Homo sapiens: one gene and its partners. The protein of the gene in region 1 purifies or fractionates together with the protein of each later gene. This does not show direct contact. Each region holds a gene or a part of one and is shown in the gene's direction. Other genes may lie near its edges.

Evidence for each region. The genes of interacting proteins can lie anywhere in the genome.
Region 2: the proteins of NUSAP1 (region 1) and SHCBP1 purify together in Homo sapiens (affinity purification with western blotting, with the first as the bait; one study listed by BioGRID). This does not show direct contact.
Region 3: the proteins of NUSAP1 (region 1) and SZRD1 purify together in Homo sapiens (co-immunoprecipitation; one large-scale study listed by IntAct). This does not show direct contact.
Region 4: the proteins of NUSAP1 (region 1) and FGF17 purify together in Homo sapiens (co-immunoprecipitation; one large-scale study listed by IntAct). This does not show direct contact.

What each region holds. Positions count from the first base shown.
Region 1 is NC_000015.10:41,377,881-41,381,546, forward strand, and holds the end of NUSAP1 (nucleolar and spindle-associated protein 1), read left to right. Parts: intron 1-2,212; coding exon 2,213-2,306; 3' UTR 2,307-3,166; downstream 3,167-3,666. UniProt on the Homo sapiens protein: Microtubule-associated protein with the capacity to bundle and stabilize microtubules. May associate with chromosomes and promote the organization of mitotic spindle microtubules around them.
Region 2 is NC_000016.10:46,586,880-46,590,379, reverse strand, and holds part of SHCBP1 (SHC SH2 domain-binding protein 1), read left to right. Parts: intron 1-3,500. UniProt on the Homo sapiens protein: May play a role in signaling pathways governing cellular proliferation, cell growth and differentiation. May be a component of a novel signaling pathway downstream of Shc. Acts as a positive regulator of FGF signaling in neural progenitor cells.
Region 3 is NC_000001.11:16,373,742-16,377,241, forward strand, and holds part of SZRD1 (SUZ RNA-binding domain-containing), read left to right. Parts: intron 1-3,500.
Region 4 is NC_000008.11:22,041,473-22,045,619, forward strand, and holds the start of FGF17 (fibroblast growth factor 17 isoform 1 precursor), read left to right. Parts: upstream 1-1,347; 5' UTR 1,348-1,456; coding exon 1,457-1,491; intron 1,492-1,672; coding exon 1,673-1,709; intron 1,710-3,076; exon of another isoform or gene 3,077-4,147. UniProt on the Homo sapiens protein: Plays an important role in the regulation of embryonic development and as signaling molecule in the induction and patterning of the embryonic brain. Required for normal brain development.

The sequences.
Region 1 (3,666 bases):
GTCCCAGCTACTCGGGAGACTGAGGCAGGAACCTGGGAGGCAGAGCTTACAGTGAGCCGAGATCACGCCACTGCACTCCAGCCTGGGCGACAGAGTGAGACTCCGTCTCAAAAAAAAAAAAAAGTGGTATCGTGTATATAACTTTCTGAGTACATCTGCCTAGGTTCCAGTGTAATGGACTCCAAATCAGCAGATTTGGGGTGAGGCCCAAGCACCTGCATTGTTTCCAAGGCTCTGCAGGTGATTCAGAAGAAGACCCAGATTCAGAGCACTGCTCTTGCATGACTCATCTGCCTAAACACAGGGCATGTGGGTATCTCTCCAGATACCAATGCCCAGCAGCCCAGGGCACCTACATATCCAGATAGACATAAATTCCTCACTCCTAAGAAAACCAGGCTTACAAGGCGTCAAGGCCCTATAAAGAGGAAAAACCCAGGACGGTCCTTAGAGGCTTCCTTCAGCATGAAAACCAAGTTAAAGCCAGAGCTCATCCTGGGTTGCAGCAAGTCATGGTTGGGCCCAGATTCCCTGCTTGGACCCTCGTGACACAGGGTTACCTGTCAGTTGACTCATGGCTATACACGACTGCCACCAGGGCCTTTGCTCACCGTTATTAAGTTGGCCAGGCAAGGTGGCTCACGCCTGTAATCCCAGTACTCTGGGAGGCCAAGGCGGGTGGATCACGATGTCAGGAGTTGAAGACATGGAGAAACCCCATCTCTACTAAAAATACAAAATTAGCCGGGCGTGGTGGCACATACCTGTAATCCCAGCTACTCGGGAGGCTGAGGCAGCAGAATCACTTGAACCCGGGAGGCGGAGGTTGTGGCGAGCTGAAATTGCACCATTGCACTACAGCCTGGGCAACAAGAGCAAAACTCCGTCTCAAAAAAGAAAAAAGAAATCAAAGTCAAAGGTCAAGCTCAAAATCACATAGTTTAGTGAAAGGAATAGAACTAGAACCAGGATCTACTGAGTTAGCCATTATGCTCTACTTTCAGAGGATTAGACAAACCAAAAAAAAAAAAGAAAAAGCCCAAGATTATATTAACTTATCTTGGTTTTTTTTTTTTTTTTTTTTTTTTTTTGAGATGGAGTCTCGCTCTGATGCCCAGGCTAGAGTGTGGTGGTGCGATCTTGGCTCACTGCAACCTCTGCCTCCCAGGTTCAAGTGATACTGCTGCCTCAGCCTCCCGAGTAGCTGGGATTACAGGTTCCCGCCCCCGCGTGCAGCTAATTTTTGTATTTTTAGTAGAGACGGGGTTTTACCATCTTGGCCAAGCTGGTCTCAAACTGCTGATCTCAGGTGATCCACCCACCTTGGCCTCCCAAAGTGCTGGGATTACAGGCGTGAGCTACCACACCTGGTCAACTTTGATTTCTAGGTGTAGACATTTCTCATTTAAAACAAATTTTTTTTTTTTTCTTAGAGACAGGGTCTTACTTTTTGTCACCCAGACTGGAGTACAATGGCATGATCATAGCTTACTTTGGCCTTGAACTCCTGGGCACAAGGGATCCTCCCACCTTGGCCTCCCAAAATGCTGGGATTATAGGTGTGAGCCACTGCATCTGGCCTAAAGCAAACTGTAAAATAACAAGAGTTGGATTCAATCAGCAAGGTGTCTCCTGACTCCAATTCCATGCATGATTTTATTATTTATTTTTGTTTGTTTGTTTTGAGACAGTCTCATTCTGTCGCCCAGTCTGGAGTGCAGTGGCGTGATCTCGGCTCACTGCAACCTCCGCCTCCCGGGTTCAAGGGATTCTCCTGCCTCAGCCTCCCCAGTAGCTGTGATTATAGGCATGCACCACCACACCTGGCTACCTTTTTTGTATTTTTAGTAGAGACGGGGTTTCACCATTTTGGCCAGGCTGGTCTCGAACTCCTGACCTCAAGTGATCTGCCTGCCTTGGCCTCCTAACGTGCTGGGATTTCAGGCATGAGCCATCGCGCCCCGGCCTCCATGCATGATTTTAGAGTGCTGAGTTAACAAAAGGAAAATACCAGTTTCTAACCCTTTAACACAACAATGACGAACAGGTGTTAGAAACACTAGGCAGAGCACAGTGCCCTCTAAGAGTCTGTTTTACACAAGTATGCTGGATGTCATTGCTTGGAAGTTTGGGTGTTAGTCCAACAATAGTTGCTTTAAAGTATCTGTTTTGGAGCCTCCCTAGAGCTTAATGTGTGACCTATCCCTCTCAGGGAAGAGCAACGGAAGAAACGCGAGCAAGAACGAAAGGAGAAGAAAGCAAAGGTTTTGGGAATGCGAAGGGGCCTCATTTTGGCTGAAGATTAATAATTTTTTAACATCTTGTAAATATTCCTGTATTCTCAACTTTTTTCCTTTTGTAAATTTTTTTTTTTTGCTGTCATCCCCACTTTAGTCACGAGATCTTTTTCTGCTAACTGTTCATAGTCTGTGTAGTGTCCATGGGTTCTTCATGTGCTATGATCTCTGAAAAGACGTTATCACCTTAAAGCTCAAATTCTTTGGGATGGTTTTTACTTAAGTCCATTAACAATTCAGGTTTCTAACGAGACCCATCCTAAAATTCTGTTTCTAGATTTTTAATGTCAAGTTCCCAAGTTCCCCCTGCTGGTTCTAATATTAACAGAACTGCAGTCTTCTGCTAGCCAATAGCATTTACCTGATGGCAGCTAGTTATGCAAGCTTCAGGAGAATTTGAACAATAACAAGAATAGGGTAAGCTGGGATAGAAAGGCCACCTCTTCACTCTCTATAGAATATAGTAACCTTTATGAAACGGGGCCATATAGTTTGGTTATGACATCAATATTTTACCTAGGTGAAATTGTTTAGGCTTATGTACCTTCGTTCAAATATCCTCATGTAATTGCCATCTGTCACTCACTATATTCACAAAAATAAAACTCTACAACTCATTCTAACATTGCTTACTTAAAAGCTACATAGCCCTATCGAAATGCGAGGATTAATGCTTTAATGCTTTTAGAGACAGGGTCTCACTGTGTTGCCCAGGCTGGTCTCAAACTCCACCAAATGTACTTCTTATTCATTTTATGGAAAAGACTAGGCTTTGCTTAGTATCATGTCCATGTTTCCTTCACCTCAGTGGAGCTTCTGAGTTTTATACTGCTCAAGATCGTCATAAATAAAATTTTTTCTCATTGTCATAGATTCATTCTTTGTAAACATAAGTCTTCCAAGATTTAGGTGAGCAGCTAGGCTTAACAAGAGTTTATACATACCCTTGGTATGCCCTTTCCTGACCACTGCTTCCATTCAAAAAAGAAACGGCAGTATGCTTCCTTTATATTCCCAGAGTACCTCTCAGGTTTTATTAAATGCTGTTTTGTATATACGAGGCTTTAGGACATGGCACACTTCCGGGTACTGGAAACATTCAGATTTTCCTATCAAGGGGAAGAGATCAGATCAATTTTAAAAATTCAGGGTCAAATACACATCTGATGGAAATGTAAAATGTCACAACCACTTTGGAAAACAGTTTGCTAGTTTCTTTGAAAAGTTAACAGTATGTCTACCGTGTAATCTAGCCATGCCATTAGGTAGTGAGACCCTATCTGAAAAAAGAAAAAACCACCAGGATCTTACATAGAGAAAATCCTAAGGATTTCACTAAAAAGCTCCTAGAACTAATAAATTCAGTAAG
Region 2 (3,500 bases), on another chromosome or scaffold:
TGCCTGTTCACTCTGATGGTAGTTTGTTCTGCTGTGCAGAAGCTCTTTAGTTTAACTAGATCCCATTTGTCAATTTTGGCTTTTGTTGCCATTGCTTTTGGTGTTTTAGTCATGAAGTCCTGCCATGCGTATGTCCTGAATGGTATTGCCTAGATTTTCTTCTAGGGTTTTAATGGTTTTAGGTCTAACATTTAAGTCTTTAATCCATCTTGAATTAATTTTTGTAAGGTGTAAGGAAGGGATCCAGTTTCAGCTTTCTACATATGACTAGCCAGTTTTCCCAGCACCATTTATTAAATAGGGAATCCTTTCCCCATTTCTTGTTTTTGTCAGGTTTGTCAAAGATCAGATGGTTGTAGATGTGTGGTATTATTTCTGAGGGCTCTGTTCTGTTCCATTGGTCTATATCTCTGTTTTGGTACCAGTACCATGCTGTTTTGGTTACTGTAGTCTTGTAGTATAGTTTGAAGTCAGGTAGCGTGATGCCTCCAGCTTTGTTCTTTTGGCTTAGGATTGTCTTGGCGATGTGGGCTCTTTTTTGGTTCCATATGAACTTTAAAGTAGTTTTTCCAATTCTGTGAAGAAAGTCCTTGGTAGCTTGATGGGGATGGCATTGAATCTATAAATTACCTTGGGCAGTATGGCCATTTTCATGATATTGATTCTTCCTATCCATGAGCATGGAATGTTCTTCCATTTGTGTCCTCTTTTATTTCATTGAGCAGTGGTTTGTAGTTCTCCTTGAAGAGGTCCTTCACATCCCTTATAAGTTGGATTCCTAAGTATTTTATTCTCTTTGAAGCAATTTTGAATGGGAGTTCACTTATGATTTGACTCTCTGTTTATCTGTTATTGGTGTATAGGAATGCTTGTGATTTTTGCACATTGATTTTGTATCCTGAGACTTTGCTGAAGTTGCTTATCAGCTTAAGGAGATATTGGGCTGAGACGATGGGGTTTTCTAGATATGCAATCATGTCATCTGCAAACAGGGACAATTTGACTTCCTCTTTTCCTAATTCAATACCCTTTATTTCTTTCTCCTGCCTGATTGCCCTGGCCAGAACTTCCAACACTATGTTGAATAGGAGTGGTGAGAGAGGGCATCCCTGTCTTGTGTGACAGTTTTCAAAGGGAATGCTTCCAGTTTTTGCCCATTGATTATGATATTGGCTGTGGGTTTGTCATAAACAGCTCTTATTATTTTGAGATACATCCCATCAATACCTAGTTTATTGAGAGTTTTTAGCATGAGACGCTGTTGAATTTTGTTGAAGGCCTTTTCTGCATCTATTGAGATAATCATGTGGTTTTTGTCTTTGGTTCTGTTTATATGATGGATTACGTTTATTGATTTGCATATGTTGAACCAGCCTTGCATCCCAGGGATGAAGCCAACTTGATCATGGTGGATAAGCTTTTTGATGTGCTGCTGGATTCGGTTTGCCAGTATTTTATTGAGGATTTTTGCATCGATGTTCATCAGGCATATTGGTCTAAATTCTCTTTTTTTGTTGTGTCTCTGCCAGGCTTTGGTATCAGGATGATGCTGGCCTCATAAAATGAGTTAGGGAGGATTCCCTCTTTTTCTATTGATTGGAATAGTTTCAGAAGGAATGGTACCAGCTCCTCTTTGTACCTCTGGTAGAATTCGGCTGTGAATCCGTCTGGTCCTAGACTTTTTTTGATTGGTAGGCTATTAAATATTGCCTCAATTTCCGAACCTGTTACTGGTCTATTCAGAGATTCAACTTCTTCCTGGTTTAGTCTTGGGAGGGTGTATGTGTTGAGGAATTTATCCATTTCTTCTAGATTTTCTAGTTTATTTGCATAGAGGTGTTTATAGTGTTCTCTGATGGTAGTTTGTATTTCTGTGGGATTGGTGGTGATATCCCCTTTATTAGTTTTTATTGCATCTATTTGATTCTTCTCTCTTTTTTCTTCTTTATTAGTCTTGCTAGTGGTCTGTCAATTTTGTTAATCTTTTCAGAAAACCAACTCCTGGATTCATTGATTTTTTGAAGGGTTTTTTGTGTCTCTATTTCCTTCAGTTCTTCTCTGATCTTAGTGATTTCTTGCCTTCTGCTAGCTTTGGAATGTGCTTTCTCTTGCTTCTCTAGTTCTTTTAATTGTGATGTTAGGGTGTCAATTTTAGATCTTTCCTGCTTTCTCTTGTGGGCATTTAGTGCTATAAATTTCCTTCTACACACTGCTTTAAATGTGTCCCAGAGATTCTGGTATGTTGTGTCTTTGTTCTCGTTGGTTTCAAAGAACATCTTTGTTTGTGCCTTCATTTCGTTATGTACCCAGTTGTCATTCAGGAGCAGGTTGTTCAGTGTCCATGTAGTGGAGCAGTTTTGTTTTGAGTGAGTTTCTTAATCCTCAGTTCTAGTTTGATTGCACTGTGGTCTGAGAGACAGTTTGTTATAATTTCTGTTCTTTTATATTTGCTGAGGAGTGCTTTACTTCCAACTATGTGGTCAATTTTGGAATAAGTGTGATGTGGTGCTGTGAAGAATGTATATTTTGTTGATTTGGGGTGGAGAGTTCTGTAGATGTCTATTAGGTCCGCTTGGTGCAGAGCTGAGTTCAATTCCTGGGTATCCTTGTTAACTTTCTGTCTTGTTGATCTGTCTAATGTTGACAGTGGGGTGTTAAAGTCTCCCATTATTATTGTGTGGGAGTCTAAGTCTCTTTGTAGGTCTCTAAGGGCATGCTTTATGAATCCGGTGCTCCTGTATTGGGTGCATATATATTTAGGATAGTTATATGCACCCATATATATTTAGGATAGTTAGCTCTTGTTGAATAGTCTTTTTCTATTGTTTTAATTTCAACTTGCCTATATTCTGTTTGAAGTGAGTTGTAGACAGCATATAGTTGAGTCATGTTTTTAATCCACTTTGGCAATCTTTGTCTTTTAATTGTATTTAGACCACTTACATTTAATTATTGATATTAAATCTTTAGTTTATTTCGTGTTTTCTGTTTGTTATGCTTTTCATTTCTTGATTTGCTTTTTTTCTGCCATCCTGTGGATAGCTGAACATTTTTCAGAATTTCATTTGTTTTTGAGAATATCTCTTCATATAACTTTTTTAGTGGTCGCCCTAGGTTGTATATTATATGTACATAACAGTTTACTGGTGTCACCAGTTCAAGTAAAGTATAGAAACCTTGCCTCCTTTTATTATTCTCTACCATCTCCTTTTTATAATTGTCTTAAACATTTGCCTTATGTACGTACATCTAGAACCATATTAGAGAATTTTATGATTTTTGTTTCAAATGTCAAACATAATTTAGAACACTCAAGAGAAGGAAAGCTTATTGTATTTACCTATATCTTTGCTTACTGTGTTCTTTTTTTTTCTTTTTGATGTTCCAGGATCTTCTCTTTTATCATTTCTTTTTTGTTTAGATAACTTCCTTTAGTCATTCTATGAAGATACGTCTGCTGGTGACAAATTTTCCTATTTTTCCTTCTTCTTAGAATATCT
Region 3 (3,500 bases), on another chromosome or scaffold:
TACAGGCATGCGCCACCACACCTGACTATTTTTGATTTTTTTGTAGAGACAGGGTCTCACCATGTTGCCCATGTTGGTCTCGAATGCCTGAACATAAGTGATCCTCCCGTTTCAGCCTCCCGGAGTGCTGGGATTGCAGGCGTGAGCCACCACACCCGGCCCATAGTTAGATTAAATTCAGGAGATCAGAACTTTGATTTTCTTCTCTTTCTTTGGAGAAGAGGCCATTCTCCCCAAAGTGTGACTGCCGCTTCACTCTGGGGTCCCCAATGCTTTGTGTAGCTGCTGTCATTTTGGAACATGTACAACAAAACAACAAAAAAAGGCTATGGGTAGTGGGAAAAAAGAGATCAATTAGTTTGGGGCTATCTGGTGCTGATTTCTTTATGTCTGTCCCTGCAGTAAAAAGAAGGCATTTAAGATTTGTGGTATCACAGAAAGCACAGTTCCAGATACACCATGCCTAAAGGGGCCACCTCTCAGTTGGTGCTAGTCTTTCTGGAAAGGTTGAGCCTTATGGACTGTGATGTCCTCAGAAGGGGCTTTCTGTGAAGCAGTTGGGCAGTTTAGGCATGATTCTGCTGAGCAGTCTGTCCCTGGGACTCTGGAAAAAGGTTGGTTTCACTGTGGCTTCAAAGAAAGGAGGATAATGAGCTTTTCACTAGTAACTTCTCAGCCCTTTTTTCATTGGCTGCATGGGAGGGCCTGTTCCCAGCGTGCTCTGGGTATCAAGAGAGCTGCCATGGTTGCCGTGGGCTAGAAATTCCAGCAATCACAGGCCTTCTTGTTTTTACTTCTATGACAGGAGAGGATTTAGTGCGTCTTTCTAAAACTGTTGGTGCAGTCCTGCAGAGAAAAGTCACAGTTGTCTAGGTCTGATGACTGAAAACATTCCAGGGGCCAGCCCTTTCCAGTTTCCACCTCTCCACTGCTGTTGGCCCCGACAGCTAGCATCAGTTTCTGGCTGTATCAGGTAGCTAGCCTCTACAAGGTGTGTTCTGTCAGGAAAACTACTGACCTGTTGGTTTCCTAGGAGAAGGTTGAGTTTAGCTACTTAAATCTGTGGCCAAAGTATAAAATAAAATAAAAAAATTTTAATGTAGTATCCATAGAGATTTCTCTTCTTGAGTGTTTTTGTTTTGTTTTGTTTTTTTGAGACGGAGTCTAGCTCTGTCGCCGAGGCTGGAGTGCAGTGGCGCAATCTCAGCTCGCTGCAACCTCTGCCTCCCGGGTTCGAGCGATTCTCCTGCCTCAGCCTCCCAAGTAGCTGGGATTACAGGTGCTCGCCACTACACCCAGCCAATTTTTGTATTTTTAGTAGAGATGGGGTTTCACTGTGTTGGCTAGGCCGGTCTCAAACTCGTGACCTCGTGATCCGCCCGCCTCGGCCTCCCAAAATGCTGGGATTACAAGCGTGAGCCACCACGCCTGGCCTTTGAGTGTTTTTCTTAAAACCGTTTGCTCCTACCAAGCATCCTTCTCTTTAACATCTAGCTCTGTGCAGGATATTAAGGTAAAACCATGCCCCACAGAAATTAGCAACAAACCCCAATAGTCTGTATGGAGACAGATAATTTTTTTTTCTTTTTTTTGAGAAGGAGTTTCTCTCTGTCACCCAGGCTAGAGTGCAGTGGCGCAATTTCTGCTCACTGAACCTCTGCCTTCCGGGTTCAAGCAATTCTCATGCCTCACCCTCCCAAGTAGCTGGGACTACAGGCTCATGTCACCATGCCCGACTCATGTTTTGTATTTTAGTAGAGACGGGTTCACCATGTTGCCCAAGCTGGTCTGGAACTCCTGAGCTCAGGCAGTCTGCCCACATCGGCCTCCCAAAGTGTTAGGATTACAGGCGTGAGCCACCGCGCCCGGTCCGAGACAGAGAATCTTGTCCTTGACGGTGAGACATTTCAAAATGCCCATCACAGTAAGCCAGCCCCTCCCCCCAACAAACTCGTTCCCTTATAAAAGGAACACAGGAAATAACAGTCATTCCTTTCTAAAAGGAATAATAAATATGTACAGCTAAAATTGCATTCTTCAGGGGCCATGGCGATTAGATGAGATTGTATAGAAGGAAAGTATGACTTGAGTCTGGAAAGGTCAGGACTGTCACCACTCTTCACTGACCTTGAGAACAATTCCCAGCCCAGCCCTTCCTAGCTTATAAAAACATTTGTGACCTTCCATATGTCAGTAGTGTTTCTGCTATCTAGTTGTTCATCTCACTGGCGAACAAGCGCGCAGCCTGTGGGAAGCTCCCAAGTTCCTCGGGCCCTTTTTGGAAGAGCTTCTAAGATATATGTTGTATGGCTGCCTACAGCCCAGGGGGAGTGCATTTTTACAATCATTAGCAGTGACCTTGTGAGGTGTAGGTGCTATTATTCCTGGTCCGGGGAGGAAATCATGTGGTCGGTCCAGCCCTGGCTGTTAGGCCTGAGCCCACACTCTGAGGGACCTTTTTTGGAGCAATTTGTTTACATTTGCTTCTCACCAGATAATTAACTAGTTAAGTGCTTTAGGATGCTTAGTTACTAGCTCCTTTGAAGCATTTCATTTGTTTTCACCTGGGATTGACCTCCTGCCTCTGTAGCCTGCATGAGCTCATAAACTGCATCTGAGAAATTTGAACTCAGTGCTGAAGAGCCAAGCGATAATCCTGCTCTCAGTTATAATGCTAAGAACAGTGACTACAAGTGAGATGCTGGTCGAAATCTTGATCATAAATGAGAAATAACTTTTTAACATTTGGCCAAGTGGAAAAAGATAACATAAATAATTATTGGGCAGGGCGCATTGGGTCACGCCTGTAATCCCAGCACTTTGGGGGGCCGAGGCAGGCGGATCACTTGAGGTCAGGAGTTCCAGATCAGCCTGGCCAACATGGTGAAACCTTGTCTCTACTGAAAATACAAAAATTAGCCAGGTGTGGTGGCAGGTGCCTGTAACCCAAGCTACCTGGGAGGCTGAGGCAGGAGAATCGCTTGAACTTGGGAGGCAGAGGTTGCAATGAGCTGAGATTGTGTCACTGCACTCCAGCCTGGGCGACACAGCGAGACTCTGTCTCAAAAAAAAAAAAAAAAAAACGTTGCTCAGGATTTTTAAATGGAGGGGGCGGTGGTCTTGCCTTGTTACCCAGACTGATCTGAACTCAGATCGCTTCAAGTGATACTCCCACCTCAGCCTCCTCCTGAGTAGCTCAGAGTACAGGTGCGTGAGCCACTGCACCTAGCCGGCAGGATTTTTAAATATTGAACTTGAATGCCTTTACCGGCTGTTGGCTGCTCTCTGCTGTCCTCTCCTCTGCTCTCCCCTGCAATCCTCCTTTACCTGTTGTTACCTCTTGTGTTCCATTCTGCCTGCTTTAGCCATTTGGGCTTGGAGGCATTGTGTTTGCCACCCCTGCTGAGTGCTGGCGATTCTAACTGGGATTTGATGAGGGCACCCTTGGGTGTTAAAGTGAAATCTGGTGGATGAGGGTTAATAGTGTCTTTGTTTCATCC
Region 4 (4,147 bases), on another chromosome or scaffold:
CTGAGCTCTGCTTGCTCACACTGGGTCTTCCCTCAGAGACCCCCAAGCCCTCCTATCTTCTGCAGTCACCGTCATCCACTTTTCTGTAGGGAGGGAACAGCATGGAGCTCTCTGTTCACCGGTCTCCAGGACCTCGGATTCCACCTTTAATCCTGAAAACCCAGGAAGGCTTCTGTATCCCTACAATGAAGCAGGTTTGGGGCTGGATCTGCAGGGTGGCAACTCAATCCATGCAGAACAGAAGAAGCATGGACTTTTCCATTCTGGCTATTCCATTCACTAGCTGGGCCATTCTGAGCAAACTACCTCCCAATGTGCCTCAGTTTCCTCATCTGCAAAATGGGCTAGTCGCTGGCATTGTACCGAGCAGTATGAGACCGGAGGTCATGGGAAGAGGCTGGTAGGCACTTCATCCCAGGCAGCTGCTCAGGGACATGGGACACAGGGAGGGGACTCCGAGCTGCTCCTAGCTCAGAGAGGCTCTAGGGACAGGCACTGGAAGGAAGGGGATGCAGAATGGTGAGTGGAGCTGGGTCTCAGAACACAGACATCTTGAAGTCTGCTATGTGCTGATTTCACACTTGACCCCCCAACACCCTGAGGCATTACTGTCCTCATTTCTCAGATGGAACTACAGAGGCCCAAGGAAAAGGGGCTTAGGCCAGGACACCCAGCTCTTCTCCAAGTGTCTGTCTCAGGCTAGCTTTTGCAACTCTCCATTGGGATTCTTCCTAGATCTCCATCTGTACCTGCCAACCCACCTCTGACCCCCAACCTGTTGCGCCCAGTATTTGCTGCCGATCAGGACAGCCTTAACCCCTCCTTCCCGGGCAATCAGCTGCTCCAAGCCAAGCCCACCCCTGCCCCCTGGAGGGAGGCGGCTCCTTTTAAGGCTGCTTCTGGGAATTTCCACTCCAGAGCCAGAACCAGAGACCCCAGCCCCACTTGACACCTGCGGCTCACCCTTGGGGAGGTGGGGCGCCAGACCTGAGTGCAGGAGACGCAGACCTGGAAGGGCTCCCCCTCCCTGACCTGCCACACATCGAGTTTGTCTGCGTCGAGTTTGGCCAGTCTGTGAGGGTCAGGAATAGAGCAGGAGACAGCAGGGCCACCTCCTTCAGAAGGCCCCCACCGCTCCATCCCTGCACTGGGTGGCCCAGGAGAGACTGGCAGCCCAGAGGGCACAGCGCGCACGCCCCCACCCGCATCTGCTTTGCAGCCTCACTGGCCAGGAAGGTGGACACCTCATACCTCAGTCTCCCAATTACGCCCTCCTCCTCCCCCTCCTCCTCCCTCTTTTCTCTCCTCCTCCTCCCCTTTCTCTCCTCCTCGCCCCCCTGAAAACCTGTGGCTCGGAGAGACCTTGGCTTCTCTGGGACTCTACCCCTGGGGACTTCCCACATCTGCTCCTGAGCTTGGGGGCAGGGGGGCAACCGCCTGAGGAACCTCTCCAGCGATGGGAGCCGCCCGCCTGCTGCCCAACCTCACTCTGTAAGTGTGCTACCTCTCCCACTGGAGTTTCGTTGCCATTTCCAGCCTCAGGGCAGCCCTCCTCTTCCCGGGACTCCCACGCGTGCGTGCACGGGGCTGGCAGGGCGGGGGCGGGGGCCTGGGTGCACCCTAGGCTTGCAGCTGGCACCCACACCTGGGCTTACCTCCTCTCCCCACACAGGTGCTTACAGCTGCTGATTCTCTGCTGTCAAACTCAGGTAGGCGGGCATTCCCACCGGCTTTCCCCCAATTTTTCCACCCTACCTGACCAGGGCGGGTGCAAGGGACCGGCTCCTTTCAGGTGGACAGAGGCAGAGTCTGGCCTCTCCCTGGGTCCAGGAGGCACTGAGGTTTGGAGGGGAGTGAGCCTTTGACCGGGTGGGCAGGGAAGGGGGCTGACTGAGGTTTTGTCTCTGTCCTCCCTCTGAGGACCCTCCCCACTTCCCCTGGGTCTCTGCTCCTCTTCCTCCCTCTCCATCGGGTTCCCCCAGACTTGAGGGATGGAGCCTGGAGCGGTTGGAAGCAGGTGGAGGTGATGGCTCAGGTGAGGCTTGGGTTTGCCAGTACCTGAAAGGACAGGTTTTGATGCAAGACCACTTGTATGTCCTTCTCGCCACCCCACTCCCATCAATATGGATGCCTGGGGTGGGGGTCTCGTGAGCATGTCCAGAATGCCTGGCCAGGGTGAGGTGACTCCTCACCTAGAGGGCACAGAGGTCAAGCCCAAAGAGGTTTGTTTGGGACGGGATGCAGGGTTCGCTTCTCCACACTCCCCCCACCCCAAGTCGGCCCCCCACCTCCCTCCATGCACACCTCCCACCCCCAAGTCTCAGCCCCCAGTGCGAGGCTTGCTCCCTTTTTTGTGATCCTCCATAAAAGTGCAGCTATTAAAATGCACTGGTCCAGAACCGCTCTGGGGAGAGATCGCTTGGCTTTCCCAGGCCAGAGGCCCGCTTCTCTTCATATCCAGTGGGGACTTTTTTTGAAGGTAAATGCCTTTTCTCTGGGAGAGGGAAAGGGGCAGCCTTTGAAGCAGTGGGGGGGTGGGAGAGGGAGAGACAATTCCCCCCCCCTTCCTTCCCCCTTTTGCTCCAGCCCCGTTCCAGGCCTTTTGCTTCACACATCCAGGGGGAGCCAGAAGAAAGCCCCCAGCCTGGCTGGGAGGGGGCTGGGGGTGGGCCCAACCTGTTCTGGAGGGGAACTAGCACAATGGTGCGGCTGGCCGGGCGTTTATGGCCTGGCTGAGGCCCCATTCAGGACTCAGGGAAGGTGGCAAAGCGGTCCTTTCCCCCTTGAAGTGCCCCCTCACCCCCCTGGGAGGGGGGGCCAGCAGGCCGGACCACAGCCATGCTTGAGGGGCTGTCTGACAAGCAGCTGTCTGCAGTGGTGGAAGGGGAGGTCCTCCCGCAGCGGGAACATGAAAGGGACAGGCTAGGTCCCGCGGGGAGAGGGACTTGTGGGTTGTGGGCTGTGGGGGGGCGTGGGGCTGCTTTTGTGAAAAGCTTGAAGGGGGACGAGGAAAGGAGGGGGCTTCGGGGGGGCGCTTTCTGCTCCTGACCTGGAACAGACTGCCAGAGGAGGCCGTCGGCCAAGAGGGGCGGAGGGCCTGAACCTGGGCCAGGAGGCGGGGCTGGGATAGGCAGGACCCCACCCCCTGGAAGGGAGGCCAGCGTGGGGCAGGCTGGGCAGGTCCCCCACCCCAAATGCTCCAGGGTGGGGCGAGGGGCAGGTCTTGCAGAGGCTAGGCAGAGGCTGCTCTATGGGGAGGTGCAATTGGAAATGAGCAACGGTGCACAGTAAGTGTTAACCCCGCGCAGGTTAAATGTCCAGCTCTGAGAGCTGCTCCCTCACTCCCCCTGCCTCAAAGGTGATATTTCCCACCCCCTCCCTAGGAGAGAGTAGCCCCTAACAGATGCTAATCTGGGTCTAGCTCTGTCCAGATGGCTGAGGTTGGGCCTGGGATAAAGGTGGAATTAGGGATTTGGGGCAGGGGCTGAGAAAAGCTGTCCCAGCACAGGCAGCGGCATCCAGGTGGAGACAAAACCAGCAAAAAAGGTACATTCTCATGCTAGAGCTGAGGCTGTTGCCAGGAGCCAGGAAACCTAGCCCGGGTCGCACCTTGCAGGATGGAGGGGAAGAAGTACTCAGTCTCTCCCACTCAGCCTTACAGATGGGTAACGAGAGACCTAGCTGGGAGGCGGTACTCCTCCTGGCTTTGCACAGTGCGTGGGGGGAAATGGTTCCTCTCCCCCAACCCAAAGGGGAAGCAGGTGGGCGGGCGCATCCCACCAACTGGCCAGGAGCCTCTGTTACATTGTGGCTAAGGAGCTGCCTGCCAGGGGCAGCCATTGGGCCACCGCTGATAGTGCCTGTCCTCTTGGTACTGCCTCTGCCTCCCTCCGCTAAGGAGGCACCTTGCCTGCCTGCTGTCCCATAGTGCCCAGCCCCAGCCCCAGCCCCAGCTCCAGCCCATAGAGGAGGGAGGAACACTGGAAGGGCCCTGAGCACCAGGGGGCAAGGCCGGGAAGAAGATGGGTATGAGCTCAGGATTCCACAGTTAGTGCTTCAAAGAAATGCTCATGGGACCCTGCAGGAGCTTTCAGAGTCCCCCACATGCTCTCTGGTGACCCTAACTCGCAGCACCATCTGCTCTGTG